3 linked regions of the Homo sapiens genome follow. The protein of the gene in region 2 purifies or fractionates together with the protein of the main gene of each other region. This does not show direct contact. Each region holds a gene or a part of one and is shown on either strand. Other genes may lie near its edges.

Evidence for each region.
Region 1: the proteins of ABCG8 (region 2) and CD320 purify together in Homo sapiens (affinity purification with mass spectrometry; 2 studies listed by BioGRID and IntAct, with this or other methods). This does not show direct contact.
Region 3: the proteins of ABCG8 (region 2) and TSPAN3 purify together in Homo sapiens (affinity purification with mass spectrometry; 2 studies listed by BioGRID and IntAct, with this or other methods). This does not show direct contact.

What each region holds. Positions count from the first base shown.
Region 1 is NC_000019.10:8,301,530-8,305,384, forward strand, and holds the end of CD320 (CD320 antigen isoform 1 precursor), read right to left. Parts: intron 3,628-3,855; coding exon 3,502-3,627; intron 2,560-3,501; coding exon 2,326-2,559; intron 1,452-2,325; coding exon 1,248-1,451; intron 1,077-1,247; coding exon 934-1,076; 3' UTR 598-933; downstream 1-597. UniProt on the Homo sapiens protein: Receptor for transcobalamin saturated with cobalamin (TCbl). Plays an important role in cobalamin uptake. Plasma membrane protein that is expressed on follicular dendritic cells (FDC) and mediates interaction with germinal center B cells.
Region 2 is NC_000002.12:43,841,937-43,849,059, reverse strand, and holds part of ABCG8 (ATP-binding cassette sub-family G member 8), read right to left. Parts: intron 5,274-7,123; exon of another isoform or gene 4,959-5,273; intron 4,632-4,958; exon of another isoform or gene 4,554-4,631; coding exon 4,452-4,553; intron 2,906-4,451; coding exon 2,749-2,905; intron 1-2,748. UniProt on the Homo sapiens protein: ABCG5 and ABCG8 form an obligate heterodimer that mediates Mg(2+)- and ATP-dependent sterol transport across the cell membrane.
Region 3 is NC_000015.10:77,061,110-77,068,232, forward strand, and holds part of TSPAN3 (tetraspanin-3), read right to left. Parts: intron 1-7,123. UniProt on the Homo sapiens protein: Regulates the proliferation and migration of oligodendrocytes, a process essential for normal myelination and repair.

The sequences.
Region 1 (3,855 bases), on a different chromosome or scaffold from region 2:
TCAGCTCACTGCAATTTCCACCTCCCAGGTTCAAGGGATTCTCCTGTCTCAGCCTCCCGAGTAGCTGGGATTACAGACGCCTGCCACCACACCCAACCAATTTTTTGTATTTTTGGTAGAGACAGGGTTTCACCATATTGGCCAGGCTGGTCTCGAACTCCTGACCTCAGGTGATCCGCCCACCTCTCGGCCTCCCAAAGTGCTGGGATTACAGGTGTGAGCCACTGTGCCCGGCCAAAACGCAGTCTCTAAAAACATAATTAAAAAATAATTAAAACAGGGTGAGTCTGAGACCATCCCAGGAAACCTGGCTTCCACTGCACTGAGGAGGAAGCCACAGTGGGTGGGGGTCCCCAGACCTGGGAATGGGAAGGCACTGCCCAAGCTCTGCTCTTCTTCCAAGAATCCTGATGTTAACGCAGACTCCCCACCCCAGCCCTGCTGCCCCTGCTCCCAAAAAGCAAGCAGCACAGTAGCTGCACACAGGGCTGGGTGTCCATGTCCCACCTTCTATGGGCTGGGCTCTCATGGAGGAGGGGCTGCAGCAGCGACCCCAGGCTGCCCAGGCCAAGGGAGACAGAGACCCAGAGGCAGGCGGAGGATGTGAAGCAACTTTAATTGCCACCCTCAGACGGGGCAGCAGGAGTGTCTTAAGCACAGGGCCGTTCTACCCCCTGGGAGCTGCCTGGGGCCAGCCCCTCAGTTCTGGCTGTGGCAGGTTCCCCATCCTAGCTCCCCGGATCTCCATAGGGAGTGTCCAGGGACCCTCAATCTCCAGGGCCACTTCTGCAGGAGCTCGGGTTCGAGGTTCCACGTGGCCAGAAGAGCTCAGGTCTCTGAGGGCTGGTGTGCCCGGGTACCCATCCGCATCACTGCTCTCCTCCTGTCCGGCTACGCCCAGGGCTGAGTGACGGTGGTGGCAAGTGCTTGTCCTCAGGGCAGCGAGGTCTTCTGTTCTGACAGCAGCAGGGACTCCTTCATGGCCACCAGTAACCCCAGTGGGCGGAGGCGCTCCTGGGCTCGGAGCCAGGACAAAAGGAGGAGGGTGGCGGTGACCAGGCTTGCACTGAGCACCGCTGTGGGGAACAGATGGACAGAGGAGTAAGGAGGGGGAAGGCAAGAGCCCCCACACCCACCAAGCTCCATACACATGGGGATGGGAGTTCTGCAGCTCATCCCTCCCCACCCACCTCCCCTGAATCCCCGGAGCTCTAAGCCCCCAGCATGGGAGGGTAAGTCCCTCTTACCAGCAGCTGCAATAACCCCATAGGCAGTTGGGCTTCCAGACTGGTCTCCGGCAGAGGAGGATGTGGCATTCCCGACAGAGGGGACACTCTCCAGGGTCACAGGGGGCCCCATGGTTGTGGCATTCCTGAGAGAGGTGACACTCTCCAGGGTCACAGGGGGCCCCATGGTTGTGGCATCCCCTTCCGGGAGGATCTCATTGGTTCCTGCAATAAGCCCAGGCGTTCAGTAGTTGAGGAGAGAGCACTGAAGGCGTGAGGGGGCCAGATGCCCAGGGGAGCCCTTGGGGTTTATCCTCAACCAACCAGGCTGGGTGAAGCTGACTGCCCGTAATTATGTCTTTTTTTTTTTTTTTTTTTGGAGAGGGAGTCTGGCTCTGCCACCCAGGCTGGAGTGCAGTGGCGCAATATTGGCTCAGTGAAACCTCTGCCTCCTGAGTTCAAACAATTATCCTGTCTTAGCCTCCCGAGTAGCTGGGATTACAGGTGCACGCCACCACGCCTAGCTAACTTTTGTATTTTTAGTAGAGACAGGATTTCGCCATGTTGGCCAGACTGGTCTCGAACACCTCACCTCAGGTGATCTGCCTGCCTCGGCCTCCCAAAGTGCTAGGATTACAGGCGTTAGCCACCGTGCCCGGCCTTTTTTAAATTTTTTTGAGACAGAGTTTTGCTGTCACCCAGACTGGTGTGCAGTGGCCCAATCTCAGCTCACTGCAACCTCTGCCTCCCAGGTTCAAGCGGTTCTCCTGACTCAGCCTCCTGAGTAGCTCGGATTACAGGTGTGTGCCACCATGCCCAGCAAATTTTTTTGTACTTTTAGTAGAGACGGGGTTTCGCAGTGTTTGCCAGGCAGGTCTCGAAATCCTGACCTCAGATGATCCGCCCACCTCAGCCTCCCAAAGTGCTGGGATTACAGGCGTGAGCCACCGGGCCCGGCCCCTAATGATGTCTTGATTCCCCCACAGGGATGCAGGCACGGGCAAAGGCATGTGTCCACGCCCCCAGCCTGGCCACGCCCCAGCAGGCAGTGGGTGTCCCCATCTACCCACGAGTCCACCCCAGCCCCGCAGGTGCATACCACAGCCGAGCTCGTCGCTGGAGTCGGGACAGTCTGGGTGGCCGTCGCAGCGCCACGTGAGTGGAATGCAGTCATCGCTCAGCGTGCAACGGAGCTCGCCTGCTAGGCAGGCCAGGCGGCTGCAGTTGCGCAGTTTCTTGTCAGTTCCCCCAGAGCAGTCACTGACGCCGGTGCAGGGGCAGGGGAGGCCAGGGGGCGGTGGGCATTGCCCTTTCTGGGTACATGGCTCAATCCCTGGGGCACAGGGTTGGTCAGGTCCCAAATGCCCACCCAAGAAGGCCCAGGTACTCCCTGAAACCCCATCCCCTGCAAGCCCCACCCTCTAAGAACAGCTGAGCCCAAAAAAATGCTCCCTTCCTAAGGCTCCGCCCCCTGCAACTGTTAACTCCACTTTCTAAGGACAGGCCTCCCTGCAAGCTCTTCCCCTGAGACCCCACTAGCTCTACCTTCCTACAAGCCCACTTTATTCTATTTGTTTGTTTGTTTCTTTCTTTATTTTTTCTTTTGAGACGGGGTCTCCCTTTGCTGCCCAGGCTGCAGTGCAGTGGCGCAATCTCGACTCACTGAAACCTCTGCCTCCCAGGGTCAAGTGATTCTCCTGCCTTAGCCTCCTGACTAGCTGGGATTACAGGGGCCTGCCGCCACATCCAGCTAACTTTTGTATTTTTAGTAGAGATGGGGTTTCACTGTGTTGGCCAGGCTGGTCTCGAACGCCTGACCTCAAGTGATCCGCCTGCCTTGGCCTCCCAAAGTGCTGGGATTACATGTGTGAGCCACCGTACCTGGCTCCCTCCCTCTCTCTTTCCTTCCTTTCTTTCCTTTCTTTCATTTTTCTTTTTTTTTTCTTTTTCTTTTTTTTTCCTGAGACAGTCTTACTCTGTTGCCCAGGCTGGAGTGCACTGGCACAATCCTAGCTCACTGCAGCGGCAACCTCCCAGGATCAAGTGATCGATCCTCCCACCCTAGCCTCCCAAAGTGCTGGGATTGCAGGCGTGAGCCACTGCGCCCAGCCCAAGCCCATCTTAGACCCCGCTTCTTATGACCCACAGACCCAAGTCGCACCCATCCCTGCGGCCCTGCCTTTCCCACAAGCTCCACCTCCGCGTGCCTGGCCCCTGACAAACCACCCTCAGGCCCCGCCCCCTGTAAGCCCCGCCAAGGGGCGTGGCCACTCACTGCACTCCTCCTCATCGCTGCCATCGCTGCAGTCCAAGTCCCTGTCGCAGCGCCAGGTGAGGGGCACGCATAAGCCACTGGTGCGGCACTGGAACTTGGTGGGTGGGCACGAGCCTGAGCTGGGGCCTGCGAGATGGATGCAAATGAAGCCTGGGAAGCTGGAGGCTGGACCTTTCTCCAAGAGCACAGTAGTCACTGGCTGTGATCCGCAGGAGACAGGCGAAGTCCCGGGATATAGGAACCACACTGGCGGCTGCTTGTTACTGAGCCCCTAGTACGAGTGGGGTTCAGAGTGTAGCAGTTCCTGGGCTCAAGAGCCCCACTGGGCAGGTGCTACTGCACTCCCCAGGTTAC
Region 2 (7,123 bases):
TCTTTTCTTTTCCTTTTTTTTTTTTTTTTTTTTTTTTTAGACAGTGTTTTGCTCTTGCTGCCCAGGCTGGAGTGCAATGGTGCAATCTCAGCTCACTGCAACCTCCACCTCCAGGGTTCAAGCGATTCTCCCACATCAGCCTCCCAAGTAGCTGGGATTACAGGCACGTGCCACCACGCCCAGCTAATTTTTTGTATTTTTTTTTTAGTAGAGACAGGGTTTCACCATGTTGGCCAGGCTGGTCTCGAACTCCTGACCTCAGGTGATCCACTTGCCTCAGCCTCCCAAAGTGCTGGGATTACAGGCATGAGCCACCGTGCCCAGCCTGGCTGTTTTCTTTGTATTTTAAAAATTATGGCCAGCGTTCTTTTGTGTGTATGTTGGGCAGGGGGAGAGGGGGATGGCAGTAAAAGTCACAGGAAGTGTAGTTGATGAACCTTTCTAATAAATCATTTTAATAATTTCAGCTGCTCAGTTAAACTAAATTTGGCCTGAGGCTGCCTGCATACTTTGAGTTCCCACAGAGCAAACTGCAAGCAAACTTAGTATGTAAACAAACTGCAACTTATCTTAGCAGTATATTCTCTTAAGACAGAGACTGGCTGAGACAAGTTGCTGAGTCTCAGCCAATCATGGCAGCCAAGCATCAGCCAATCACAGGCTACCGACTGATGAGCTCCTGTCCATACCCAACACCTGATCACATCACCCTCAAATAAATAAGGTGAACACCCAACTGTAACCAATCAGCTATTTCTGTAGGGCACTTCCTTTTTCTGTCTATAAATACTGCCTGACCAAATTGCTTGGGGGAGCCTCTGAACTGGTCCTGTTTTTGAGTGCTGCCAGATTCATTAATCACTATTTGCTCAGACAACTCTACTATTTATTTGTCTAAAGTTGTTTGTTGTTGTTTTGTTTTTTGTTTTTGTTTTTTTTACACAGGCAAGTAAACCTGAAGCCAAACAACACTGAATCTATAAACAACCAGGAGATGCTCGGTGCAGTGACTCATGCCTGTAATCCCAGCACTTTGAGAGGCCAAGGCAAGCAGATCACCTGAGGCCAGGAGTTGGAGATCAGCCTGGCCACCATGGCAAAACCATATCTCTACAAAAAATACAAAAAAAAATGAGCCAGGCATAGTGGCACCCACCTGTAATCCCAGCTACTTGGGAGGCTGAGACATGAGACTCGCTTGAACCCAGGAGGAGCGGGTTGCAGTGAGCCGAGATCACACCACTGCAATCCAGCCTAGGCAACAGAGAGAGACTGCCTCAAAAAAACAAAACAACAACAACAAAAAAAACAAAACAGGAGACTATTCAGTGTAATTTATTCATTCCTTTCTAAGAGACGGGATCGTGCTCTGTTGCCCAGGCTGGAGTGCAGTGGCGCGATCTCGACTCACTGCAAGCTCCACCTCCCAGGTTCACGCCATTCTCCTGCCTCAACCTCCCAAGTAGCTGGGACTACAGGCACCCACCACGACACCCAGCTAATTTTTTGTATTTTTAGTAGAGACGGGGTTTCACCGTGATAGCCAGGACGGTCTCGATCTCCTGACCTCGTGATCTGCCCGCCTCGGCCTCCCAAAGTGCTAGGATTACAGGTATGAGCCACTGTGCCTGGCCGGGATCTACTTTTTTCTTATTTAGGTCAGGATTGCAGGGACAGGGACAGAGTGAGAGGGACTTCATGACTGTGATGCTGTTTCAGTTACAAAGTGCATTTATACATAAGATTTCATTTGATCTTTGGTTATACGGTAAACAGAACTTATCTACCAGACGGGTGTAAAAGTTTGGAGCAGAATGTTTAAAAAATTGAGTAATCTCTACCTCTGGAAATGATTAATTAAAAGATATAAAATGCTCTCTCCAGCACTATGTAAGGGTGTCCCAGGGAGAAATGTCTTGATCCGAGAATGATGAAACCAAAGTTCTAGTTCTAGCTCTGCATTAAATATGTGTCCTTACGAGAATCCCTCAATTTCTTTGGATTTGAGTCTCCTCATCTGTCAAATGGAGGGGAGTGTGTGTGTGTGTGTGTGTGTGTGTGTGTGTGTGCACGCGCGCGTGCAGGAGGATACTCTAGACACACTGAGGAGTAGGGAGTTTGAACACCTTCCTCTGAAAATGCTTCCAAACTGGTAGGGAGAAAGAAAGGTGGAACATGATGAGAATGACCTCTGTTCCCCAAGCCCCCTTTCAGCTCAGACATTCTCTCATTTTAAATTTGGCCATGGAAATGACAATTTGAGGCACTCCAAGAACCTGGCTCTTTGCAGATGAGTGAAAGTTGTGCTAAGTAAGACACTGGAGAGGCTGTCTGAGAGGTGAGAGTGTGGCAGGGGCTGTCTGGCCATAATCAGAATGTGATTGTGGAGGAACAACCTGAACCAATGCCCCTCATGGCTGGAGGAGTCTGAAAAGAACATTACATGCTGGAGCTGTTTGCTGATCTCTCCGTCCAGGTGTTAGCCAAAGTCAGATGCTCTGGCCACAGCCTCGGGTGGACAAGAGGCGCACTCATGACTCTTAACAACAGCACCTACCCTCAAGCCAGCAAATGGAGGAGCCAGGATTTGAGCCCAGGTCTGTCTGACCCAGAACCTGTGTTCTCAGCCATTCTGCTGTATTATTCTACTAGTCAGCAAAGAGCTCCATAAGAAGCATCCATTTGTCCAAAGGACCATTCTGTATCCCAGGAGAGAAACCATTGCCCAGCGATTTGCCTTTCCGGTACCTGAGCTCCCTATGATGGCCAGCATCTGCCCACTTCTCACTTTGAAGCTTAGGTTCTGGATGCCCAGCTCACAAGAATTCTGGCAGCTGGGAGATGTCCAGGGCATCTTGAACTGAGCCAGCTGCTCAAACCAAGGGACCTGAGAGGCCAGGTCCACCTGTGGGGAGATATCAGAAGGTTCCTTAGAGAGCTGAATGGTTCAGAGGGCTTCAGCAACTTCTGTTCAGCATCTTCGTTCCCCAGGTGGCCCCTCTCCACAGAGGATATGTCCTCACCTACACACAATAGGCCCCAACCCAGGTTCTACCAAACACGGAAGCAGGACCCATGCTGAGAACCTGTAGCTGCTGTTTCTAGGTCTGAAGATAAGAAGAATGAAAAGCATGTACAGGCCAGGCATGGTGGCTCATGCCTGTAATCTCAGCACTTTGGAAGGCTGAGGCAGGTGGATCACCTGAGGTCAGGAGTTTGAGACCAGCCTGGCCAACATGGTAAAACCCCGCCTCTACTAAAAATACAAAAATTAGCCAGGCATGGTGGTGGTTGCCTGTAATCCCAGCTACTTGGGAGGCTGAGGCAGGAGAATCACTTGAATTTGGGAGGCAGAGATTGCAGTCAGCCAAGATTGCACCACTGCATCCCAGCCTGGGTGACAGAATGAGACTCCATCTCAAAAAAAAAAGTAAGGAAAAAAGAAAATCATGTGCAATAGTGGTACAGAAATAAAAATAAAACACGAAGCAAAATGTCTTCACTTGATACTAGTAATTTACTAATAATTTATCAGATGTTTACTATGTGCAAGACATTGTGTTAATCACTTAACATCCATCACCTTATTCAATCCTCACTGCAAATCTATAACATAGATATGCTCAGAATCCTTGTTTTACAGATGAGGCTCAGGGCAGTTAAGCAACTTGCTCAAGGTCACACAGCTGGTAAGTGGCAGAGCAGAGAAAGGCTCATTGGCTTGTCCCAACTCACACCCACAGGAAGCCAGACTCAGGCCTCTGAAGTTCACCATCCCAGACCCCACCATGTCCCATCTGGGTCCCTGGGGAGCTGTGGGAATATGGATCCTTGAATCTGACCAGGGGGTTCCTGGGTGCCTCTGAAAGGTCAGTCATTGTCTTTGCACTCTGGATGTTTTATAAGCTCCAGGGATAGTACATTTTACAAAAAAAAAATTATATATATATATATATATATACACACACACACACACACATATATATATAACTAATGAAATCTGAATAAAGTCTGTAGTTAATAGCATTGTACATTGTTCATTTCTTAGTGTTCATAATTATACTATGGGTATGCAAGATGTTAACATTAGGGGAAGCTGGACAATGGGTATATGGAAACACTGTGTTATTTTTGCAATTTTTTCCAAAATCTAAAGTTATTTCAAAATATAGTTTAAAAAGAGTCCCAGAGACATTTTTCTATAGGTTCACGCATTTTGTTTTATGTTTATACAACAGTTTTATTCTCTTTTCAAGCCTCTCAACCTCCAGCTCTGATATATGCCATTGATGACACCTATTGCACCTGACACGTGAGGCATCAATGTGGACTGGACTCTGTCCTTGCGGGCAGAGGGCCTGCAAGTTGGGCCCACCCTTTTATTTCCACCCGGGGAATTTCCTGGCTGTCCCTGCCTGCTCCTCTCCCCTTGAACCCAGGCGTGCCTCTACCTGGTAGTTGAGGTCTCTGACCTCCAGGGTGTTGGGCTGGCCACTGTAGGTGAAGTACAGGCTGTTGTCACTTTCAGAGGAGAACAATCTATCCTGGAGGCCCTGTGGGAGACAGGAGAGATGAGGGGCTCCTTTAGAAGCTGCTGAGAACATAGGAGAAGACAAGAAGGAAACCAACAGGTGAGAGCAACTTCTTAGAGCCGACGTGGTTAAATCTCAAATTGGCAACAGATGGGATTGCACAGGTGGAACCTCAGGGCTTTGGGAAAATAGGAGTGCTGACAAGGGCCCATCTCCTCTTCCCTTCAGAGAGAGGTTTGGGGCTTCTCCCGGGGCACCTTCCCAGAGAACCTCAACCTCAGGCTGGTGGAGCCTGAAGCCAAGCAGCTTCTGGTAAAGAGACCCAGACTCTGGACCGGAGAGAGTTCTATAAAAAAACCTCTGTGCTCTGAGAAGACCTGACTGGAGTGGGCAAACTCTTTGCCTTTAACTTTCTCTTCCCTGCAGCTGGCTTAATATCTCCTGAGGCCAAACAGACATGACACTTGCAGCATGTGAGAGGGAAGCAGCTGTTGAGAGTTAATGCCCAATATTCATGAAGATACCACCCTGAGAAAAATTCTAACCAACATCTTAGTCCTCACTAACATCTGGCATACTTCTCCTCATATCTGATTTTGATGAAGAGTTCATGCAACAAAGTGATGGAAAATGCTGCTGGGAGCTTTGAGAGGAAGTCCCTCTCATCATCATCATCATGTTGTTGTTATTGTCGAAGTGGTGGTATATTTGAATGTACATTAAAAAATCAATGTTTCATGGTGTCGGCTGATACCTTTGAATGGTATTAACCATCTGCAGATCTCAATTCCTCCTATTTTGACAATTCAATCATTTAAACCATTGAGGCCCAAACAAAGAAGCAACAGGAAGTCCCCCATCATTTCTTTTTCTTTGGATTGGGTCTCGCTCTATCACCCAGGATGGAGTGCAGTGACATGATCACAGCTCACTGCATCCTCAACCTCTCAGGCTCAAGCAATCCTCCCACCTCAGCCTCCCCACCACACCCAGCTAATTTTTGTATTTTTTGTAGAGACAGGGTTTCACCATGTTGGTCTCAAACTCCTGGGCTCAAGTGATCCACCCACCTCAGCATCCCAAAGTGCTGTGATTACAAGGGTGAACCACCTCGTCTGACCTCCATTTTTTACTGCATTCAATTTTTCTTACATTTCTGTCAGGCAGGAACAAGTACACTTTCATTAACAAGTTCCCATAGACTTTCCTCCTCAAGCTACCATTCTCACACTATACATTCCTTCAATCAACCATGCACCCAACAAACACTTATGGGGAGCCCAGAACACCCTTCAGGCTTGGAATTTGGGATGTGACAATGAAAAGGCCGTTGAAAAGCTTAGATTTTGGCAGATGAGACAGGTGATTACGATGGAGCGAGACAGACCAGGCAGAGAGGGAGGCTGACCTCAAGCATCTGACCAGGGTTTATTTTCACTATGTACACAATGCACGCACATGCTGTAGGTGAAACTAACATGACTTATGCCTTACGTGAAAATAACAAATAACATACAGCAGTCTTCTTGTCAAAGTACCCCTGCAATGATGGGGGCCAGAAGTTCTCGGAAAGAACATTCCAGGTCAGTGGAGGTGGAGGGAAAGAAATTCGGTGACAGTATGCCGCAGGCGTGCTGTGGGGAACCCTTAGAGTTCTGGGAGAGTATGAAAAACAGCAGACGAAAGTGACTTCCATTGCTTAATGTTTGAATTATCACCATAAAGACCCAAAATTATACAGAAAAAAATGGGAAAGATAAACACCTAATTCAGGAGAGGGGTTATCTCTGGGGAGCGGGGAGAGATGAAAGGAGAAAGGGGACACAGTAGGAGTGCGGGGATCAAGCTTCAAAGCTTTTGGTAATTGGTGGTGTGTACATGAGAGTTCTTTAAGCTGATTTGTGTACGATATTTCACAATATGTTGTCAAATTGAGAGAGCAAGCCAGTGAGTAGAACTCCAGAGTTCCATTCCCACCTCAACCCCAGTTGCCAAAGCCCCCAAGCAGGAGGGAGGTTGAGGGAGAGGAGGTAAGAAGGTCTGTGCCCCAAGCTCCTGAGGAGATTGAAAGCAGCTCGGACAGATGCTGGACTCCTGGCAGATCAGCCCTTCGGCCTTGCCCCTCACTCGCCCTCTCCGCTGTCACTGTGCACATTGCTTCATTGTCCCATTTTTGTTGTTGTTGTTGAATCATCAAAAAATCTTAGCCATTGCCAGCTGTGCGCAGTGGCTCATGCCTGTAATCCCAGCACTTTGGGAAGCTGAGGAGGGCAGATCACCTGAGGCCAGGAGTTCAAGACCAGCTTGGCCAAAACAGTGAAACCCTGTCTCTACTAAAAATACAAAAAAAAATTGCCGGGCATGGTGGCACACCCCTATAGTCCCAGCTACCCTACTCAAGAGGTTGAGGCAGGAGAATCACTTGAACCGGCAGGTGGAGGTGCAGGGAGCCGAGATCGTGCCTCTGCACTCCAGCCTGGGCCACAGCGTGAGACTCTGTCAAAAAAAAAAAAATCTTATCCATTTCTAAGAGACTCATGTGGGCTAACATGCATCTTGCTGTTGTTGTTTTTAAAACAAATATCTGCAGG
Region 3 (7,123 bases), on a different chromosome or scaffold from region 2:
GCACAAATGTGAAATATCTTAAAGAGATTTCATTCTTATATGAGATTGCTTTTTCCATAGCTTAGAAACTAGTTTTTGGGGGGGTAATTTTCAAATATTCTATGAAAGAGACAAGTAGATAAAATGTTAAAATCTGGGCCAGGCGCAGTAGCTCACACCAGTAATCCCAGCACTTTGGGAGGCCAAGGCCGGCAGATCATCTGAGGTCATGAATTCGAGACCGGCCTGACCAACATGCAGAAACCCCGTCTCTACTAAAAATACAAAATTAGCCGGGCGTGGTGGCACATGCCTGTAATCCCAGCTACTCAGAAACGCTGAGGCAGGAGAATCGCTTGAACCTGGAAGGCAGAGGTTGCAGTGAGCCGAGATTGCGCCACTGCACTCCAGCCTGGGCAACAAGAGCAAAACTCAGTCTCAAAAAATTAAAAAAAAAAAAGTTAAAATCTGTAAAACTATTAAATTCCTTTTCATCAACCACGGTGTAACCTGCCATTGGAATGTGGCAATATTAAAAATGAAACAGATTTGCTACAAGTGGGGAGATAAAGTAGCTCTGTTGCCAAAAGTATACCTACATGGAGATTTAGAAATACAAAGGCGAAAGCATCCCACAGGACATTTTGGGCGAAGCTGAAGCAAAGAATAGAAGTGATTTTCTTGCAGTGGTATGTAGTAGCCATTGATGATGATTCCCATCTAGAACTGGCAAGAATCAAAACAATGTAAAGACAAGGCACCATCTGGACTTTATTCACCTAAAAGCACAGTGCCTGACAAATTCTTGCTTGCCTGTGTGAACTGCTCCCTTCGGAGTGATTTTTGCCAAAGAATCAATTAGTAAAGTAGAAGTGACTGGAGTGTTGAGAGAAAGGAAAAAAGTCAAGAAGTAAAAGACTGAGCAAAAAATGCTGTACTCTAGACTTTGTAAGAAAGCAGGTTTTAAAAGCAGAGGGAAAAAATAGGCAGGAATCCATCTTATGCATATATCTTTTTAACATTAAATCCAGAGTTTCCTGTACTGTCATATTATTTTTCATATACCTCTTTTCTCTCCTGGGAAGAATCGTTGGTAATTCCACACAGTGGATTTCTGAAAGCTTCCCCAAACTTCACCCTTATGCCATTACAAGTGTCTTAAAATCATCTTAAATCGTTTAGCATTCTACTTGCCATAATGTATATTCTCTAATTCAACCATGCTTTCACCTCTGACTTAATCTGATAGAACAGTTTACGTCACTAAACACAACTACTTCTTATGTAAGTCCACTACCTGAATATATCATTTACTCTCCTACCAACTCTCAAGGAAAAAAGGCCATTCCAAAGACTCCAAATCCTCTTTCAGAAATTAAAGCTACTCTTACCAAGAATTTCTGAAGCTATTAAATACTATCATTTTCTACCTAACAAACTGATCAGCAATAAAGTTAAGGAGTATTCAAAGATGTGTGAGGGTGCAGAGAGAAGGGCCCTCAGATGGGCGGAAGCACAAACTAATAGAGAATCATTTTTTTGGAAACAATCTGGCAATACATATCTGCCTCAGCATTGATGCCTTTATACCTACTTATTCCACTTCCAGGAATCTATCCTTTAGAAAGTTAGTCAGAAACACAGATTTGTGTAAAAGGTAATTCATCGAGATGTTGTAATGAAATTGTGGCTGCAAAAATGAAAATGAAAAAGCCCTGGTATTCAGAGGTGTGTCTGCATTCAGCCCTGAAATATTTTCTTAAAGCATCATTTAATAATATGCTTGTGGTGTGATAGGGGAAAAAACACATATATCACATATTGGAAACAAACCAAAATGTTGATATTGGTTGTCTCTGGGTGGTAGAATTATGGGTGATACCAGTTTGCTTTTTAAAATACTTTTAGTGTCTTCTTTAAAATATATTACTTGCATAATTAGAATAATAGTTAAAATTATGTCTGAAATTGAGGCTTTAATGTTCTCTCACCAATGAATTCATTCCTGGATGTGTCCTTAACCAACCAAAAACAGACACCTCTTCCATCCTAAATATTTTAGGCACCTCTGCCAATCTCTCCCACTTACCACTTTTCTCAGGTCTGTGTGGCTTTGACTCATCCTGTACATGTTTTCTGATTATCTAACACAATTCTTTCAATGTACATTATGTTCCTTTTCTCATAAATATTACTTTTCAAGGAGACAAGTTTTTTTTAAAGTCCTACTTAAATTGGGGTGTAAAGTTTTATGTGTGTTTTTTTAACTCACCACTATACTAATGAGAAAATTCTATTTTTTTTTTTTAAGACAGGGTCTTGCTATGTTGCCCAGGCTGGCCTCAGACTCCTTCCCTCAGGGGATCCTCTCATCTCAGTCTTACTTGTAGCTAGGATTACAGGCATGTGCCACCAAGCCTGGCTAAGAGTTTAAAGTTCTGACAAGCCACTTTTGCCATCAACATCACTATTATTATTGCCATTATTCTTAAATTAGAAATATTTTAATCCTTTTTACTGCTATTACTCTGATGATATGCCAAAGGTCATGCTCCTCAATTCTGCCTTATTTTCACCTTTTCTCTATTTGGTTTTTCATAATCATTATTAAACCAGCTTAACAAAGTTGTTCTATTTAATCCAATATCTACTGGCTGAACAACTCAAAATTTCAGGTGGCAAAGAAACTGGAGATTAACCAATTGCCATTGCCAAATTATTGTAACAGCATGGAAACTGGCTGTTTCCAGACAGTAGGGCTCCAGAGGTTATCTGAGAAGCCTGAAATTTAAATATGCATTTTCTTTGAGACCCTCTGTTACCCCACCCTACTCTAATTGTAAAAAGAGTCCATTACAACATCATAGGAGCCTGAGGTGCTTAAGCTTTGTAATGCTAGAGTTCATCCACACTTGGGTTATGTGTTTAATCAGTAGCAACAACAATGTAAGTTACAAAATGTCAACATTTATTCTAGAACCCCTTTAGTAGATTACAAACTACACATAAATGCAGATAATTTTTCTTACCTATTAACTCTGCCTAACTACTAAAAGGAAGACAGTGAGGAGAAGGAAGAGGAAGAAGATATGTCAATATTTTTCAATAAAGACTTACTTGAGACCAGCCATGAGTAAGATTTCTGGGGGAAAGGTGCATGTAGAAATTTAATTCGATGAAAAGTCTACCCTCTCTCCCCATTAGCTGTCAGACTACAGGGACTGTGTTTACTCTATTTCTCAAAAAAAGGTCAAGGGTAGATATTCAACACACATTTACTCATGAATGATTCTTAGTACACCCGTCTGGTCTAAGTACAAACTTTATGGAATACATTTTCTGAAAAAAAAAATCAAACAAGCCTAACCTGAATTGGATCTTATGGAATAAAATTCATTAAATTATTTCAAAGCATGATAAATATCCTAGAAAGCTAATAACCCATTCCCTAAACTGCAACTAGAGAGAGCGCCCCTGCTGATTCCAAGTTCTAAATGATTACTCAGGGCCACAAGGCTCTTGGTCAGTGGACAGGTGACTAAGAATGTAGTAAGAGTGGAAACATTCATTTTCTTAACTGTTGAAGACAAACTAAGACAGACACTTCCTATTATGTACTTGCTTCCTGACAAGTTAGATTTTCTTCTAGTGAATTGAAAACAAGCATGAAAAAGCAAAGTTAGCTGAAGGTGTGTCCCATGACATATTCTTTGTCAGAGCAGTCATTCATGATAGGAGAAATACAGGAAGTAGAGAAACAAATTCCAGGATATCAGATGCAGGTTCCGGTTTAAAAGTATCATATTACCACCTCGAATGTGTAGGATGTGCTGGAAAACACAAAGTATGTACAAGATTTGTGACAAGGGAGAACCACACTTGAAATACCTCATTATAAAGTTTTATTTTTTAAACAAAAGCATGACGGTATAAACCTCTTAGTAATTTGAACATAGCAAGTATATTTTTGCCTTACAGCCTACAGCCTGTTCCTTCAGTTCTGAATCCCCCCAGTCTCCCAATCTCTTCCAAATCACCCAAGTCAGCAACTTCTTATACTCCAGATTTTTTTTGCCAACATAAAGCACGACCCAATCACTTTATCACATCACCCTTTAATTCTCTGCATAACACATCACTCTGATCATTTTTCTTGTTTATTTTTGTGTGTCTTGCTTCACCGGAAAGTAAGTTCTGTAAGAATAGGGATTTTTCACTGTCTTTTCATCATTTATCAACAATATAAGCACAAAGTAGGTGCTCAAATAGTAGTGTTATATTTAACAAAGCAAATTTTCCTTAATTATATACATTCACAGACATAAGCGTGATAAGTTTTATTTATTTATTTATTTTGAGATGGAGTCTCGCTCTGTCGCCCAGGCTGGAGTGCAGTGGCTCGATCGCCGCTCACTACAAGCTCCGCCTCCCGGGTTCACGCCATGCTCCTGCCTCAGCCTCCCGAGTAGCTGGGACTACAAGTGCCCACCACCACATCTGGCTAATTTTTTGTATTTTTAGTAGAGACGGGGTTTCACCGTGTTAGTCAGGAGGGTGATCTGCCACCCTTGGCGTCCCAAAGTGCTGGGATTACAGGCATGAGCCACCGCACCTGGCTGATAAGTTTTATTTTTAAAGGCAGGATAAGTTTTAAAGGTTACATATGGCTTTCAACTACAATTTATATGTGTGAAGTATTTCATATGAATGAATGATGGTTAGTGAAGGTGCCACGTTCCAAAGCTATTTCTAAAGGCATTTATTTAAAAGGCGTTTGACTTTTTTGCGGTACTTCCCCCACTCTACAGGTGTCTCAGTTTTATACTATCACCTCTCAGATGAAAAACAACAACCTAAATAGATATTTAAGATTATAAATTCTATAAGCATGGACAAAGCTTTCTGTTCCAGTCCCTGTAATGCCTAAGATAAATATGAGCAAAATAAGTATTAGCCAATTAGTTTTTCTAATAGGGTTTAAAAAAAAAGTAAAGGTAATTTGTATAACATAGGACTTGATTAAATAATCAATTAATTTACCGGAATAAAAACTTAATGGTAGGAAGTACTGATTTAAACTTGTTTTAGACGAGCCCTCTTTGGTCAGATTAAATGACTTACCAAACTAAAAATCCTGTCTGACCTTGGTACAAAGGTGCAGTTTACAGAATAGGCTAATGCCTATTTAATACAATAGCCTTTGCTGGGCGCGGTGGCTCACGCCTGTAATCCTAGCACTTTGGGAGACCAAGGCAGATGGATCAAGAGGTCAGGAGTTCGAGACCAGCCTGGCCAATATGGTGAAACCCTGTCTCTGTTAAAAAAATACGAAAATTAGCTGGGCATGGTGGCGCACGCCTGTAGTCCCAGCTACTCGGGAGGCTGAGGCAGGAAGATCGCTTGAACCCGGGAGACAGAGGCTGCAGTCAGCCAAGATCGCACCACTGCACTCCAGCCTGGGCGACAGAGTAAGACTTCGTCTCAAAAAAAAAAAAAAAAAAAAAAAAAAAAAGCCTTTAAAATTTAGTCATTTACCTAAAACACTTCTAACCTTCTTCAATAAATCCTCATGGGTCCAGCATGAATACACTTATATTTAAAGCCTCATCATTCCATAAAAACAGAGATCCAAGATGATCCAAGCTGTACATCCTTTCACTTGTCCAAGATTATCTTTCAAGCTACAAATCTTAATATTCTAGAATTTGGTGAGAAACTGTCTTAGTCTGTTTTCTGTTGCTTAGAACAGAATACCTGAAACTGGGTAATTTAAGAAATTTTTTTACATACATGGAGGCTGAGAAGTTCAAGGTCAAGGGGCCGTAGCTGGTCAGGGCCTTCTGCAAAGTCCTGAGGTGGCCCAGGACATCACACGTGGTGAGGGGGCTGAGTATGCTGGCTCACGTCTCTCTGCCTCTTCTTATAAAGCCACCAGTCCCATTCCCATGAAAACCCATTAATCCATTAATCCATGAATGGATTAATCCATTCATGAGGGTAGAGCCCTCATGACCCAATCACCTCTTAAAGGCCCCATCTCTCAATACGGCCACATTGGGGATTCAGTTTCAACATGAGTTTTATAAAGGACAAACATTCTAACCATAGCAGGAGTTCCCTATTTCCATTAAGACAAATTTCAGGATTTTAGAAATGATTGTTTCTGCTTTTGGTTTGTGCCTTTCCACAGTAACATTATTACAGCATTGTTCCAAACTATCTACACCAAATCAACAGTAACGATTTTAGCTGTCAGATAATTTACAGCCTGAGTATTTCAGGTATATATCTATCTCCATGTCACAGTTCAATGAACAAAATGCCAGCAGAATCAGGATATCAAGACATAAGAAAGTGTAGTTTAAAGGTCTTGCCAAAGCAATTAAACTTTGACCCTTGTTAACAATCAGCCATTACCATCTGACAGTGAAGAGCCAATGCAACATAGTTTTTATTGCCTACAGTTGCCCAAGGGAACCTAGGTAAACATTTGATAAGCTCTATGGAGAGTATGTTTATTCTTCCACTTATTCATCATCTCAAGGCATTAAAAGGAGGGAGGGGCCAGCATATAAGAATACATTTATTAGAACTGAAGAATGCATTACAAATTCCCAGGAAGAACCTTTTAACATTTTTTAATGTACTTCCTCATAATGACTTAATTCAAAACCAAACAAAGTGTCATGTAAATTCTGGTACAGTTTCTAATTTTAGCAATCTCAAAATCAGCATGCTTTAGAGAAGTGATTCTAACAACTTTCTTCTCTTTACAAATCTTCTGAAATCACACTTTGTCCTAACATCACAGTCTCTAGAGTATGGGACAACCTGGGTTTGAACGCAGGCTGTATCACACCTTGGGTGTGCTACTTTGGCTCAGTCAACCTTAATGTTCTCCTCTAAAATGTACCTAATATTCCCTGCTAGATGGGAAAGCTGTGAGGATATGCCATGTAAAGTGTTTAGCACAGTGCCTGGGGTATAGTAACTCAAATGTTAGTTGCCATTACCCATCATCATCAGATTCCCACAGTTAGTCCACAAACTAATACTTTCTTGGGAGACATACCTAATGCTGTTTCCTCATTAGCTACATTGCACTGTGACACATTTGCCCCCAGCGTATCTGCTTAACTTCCTT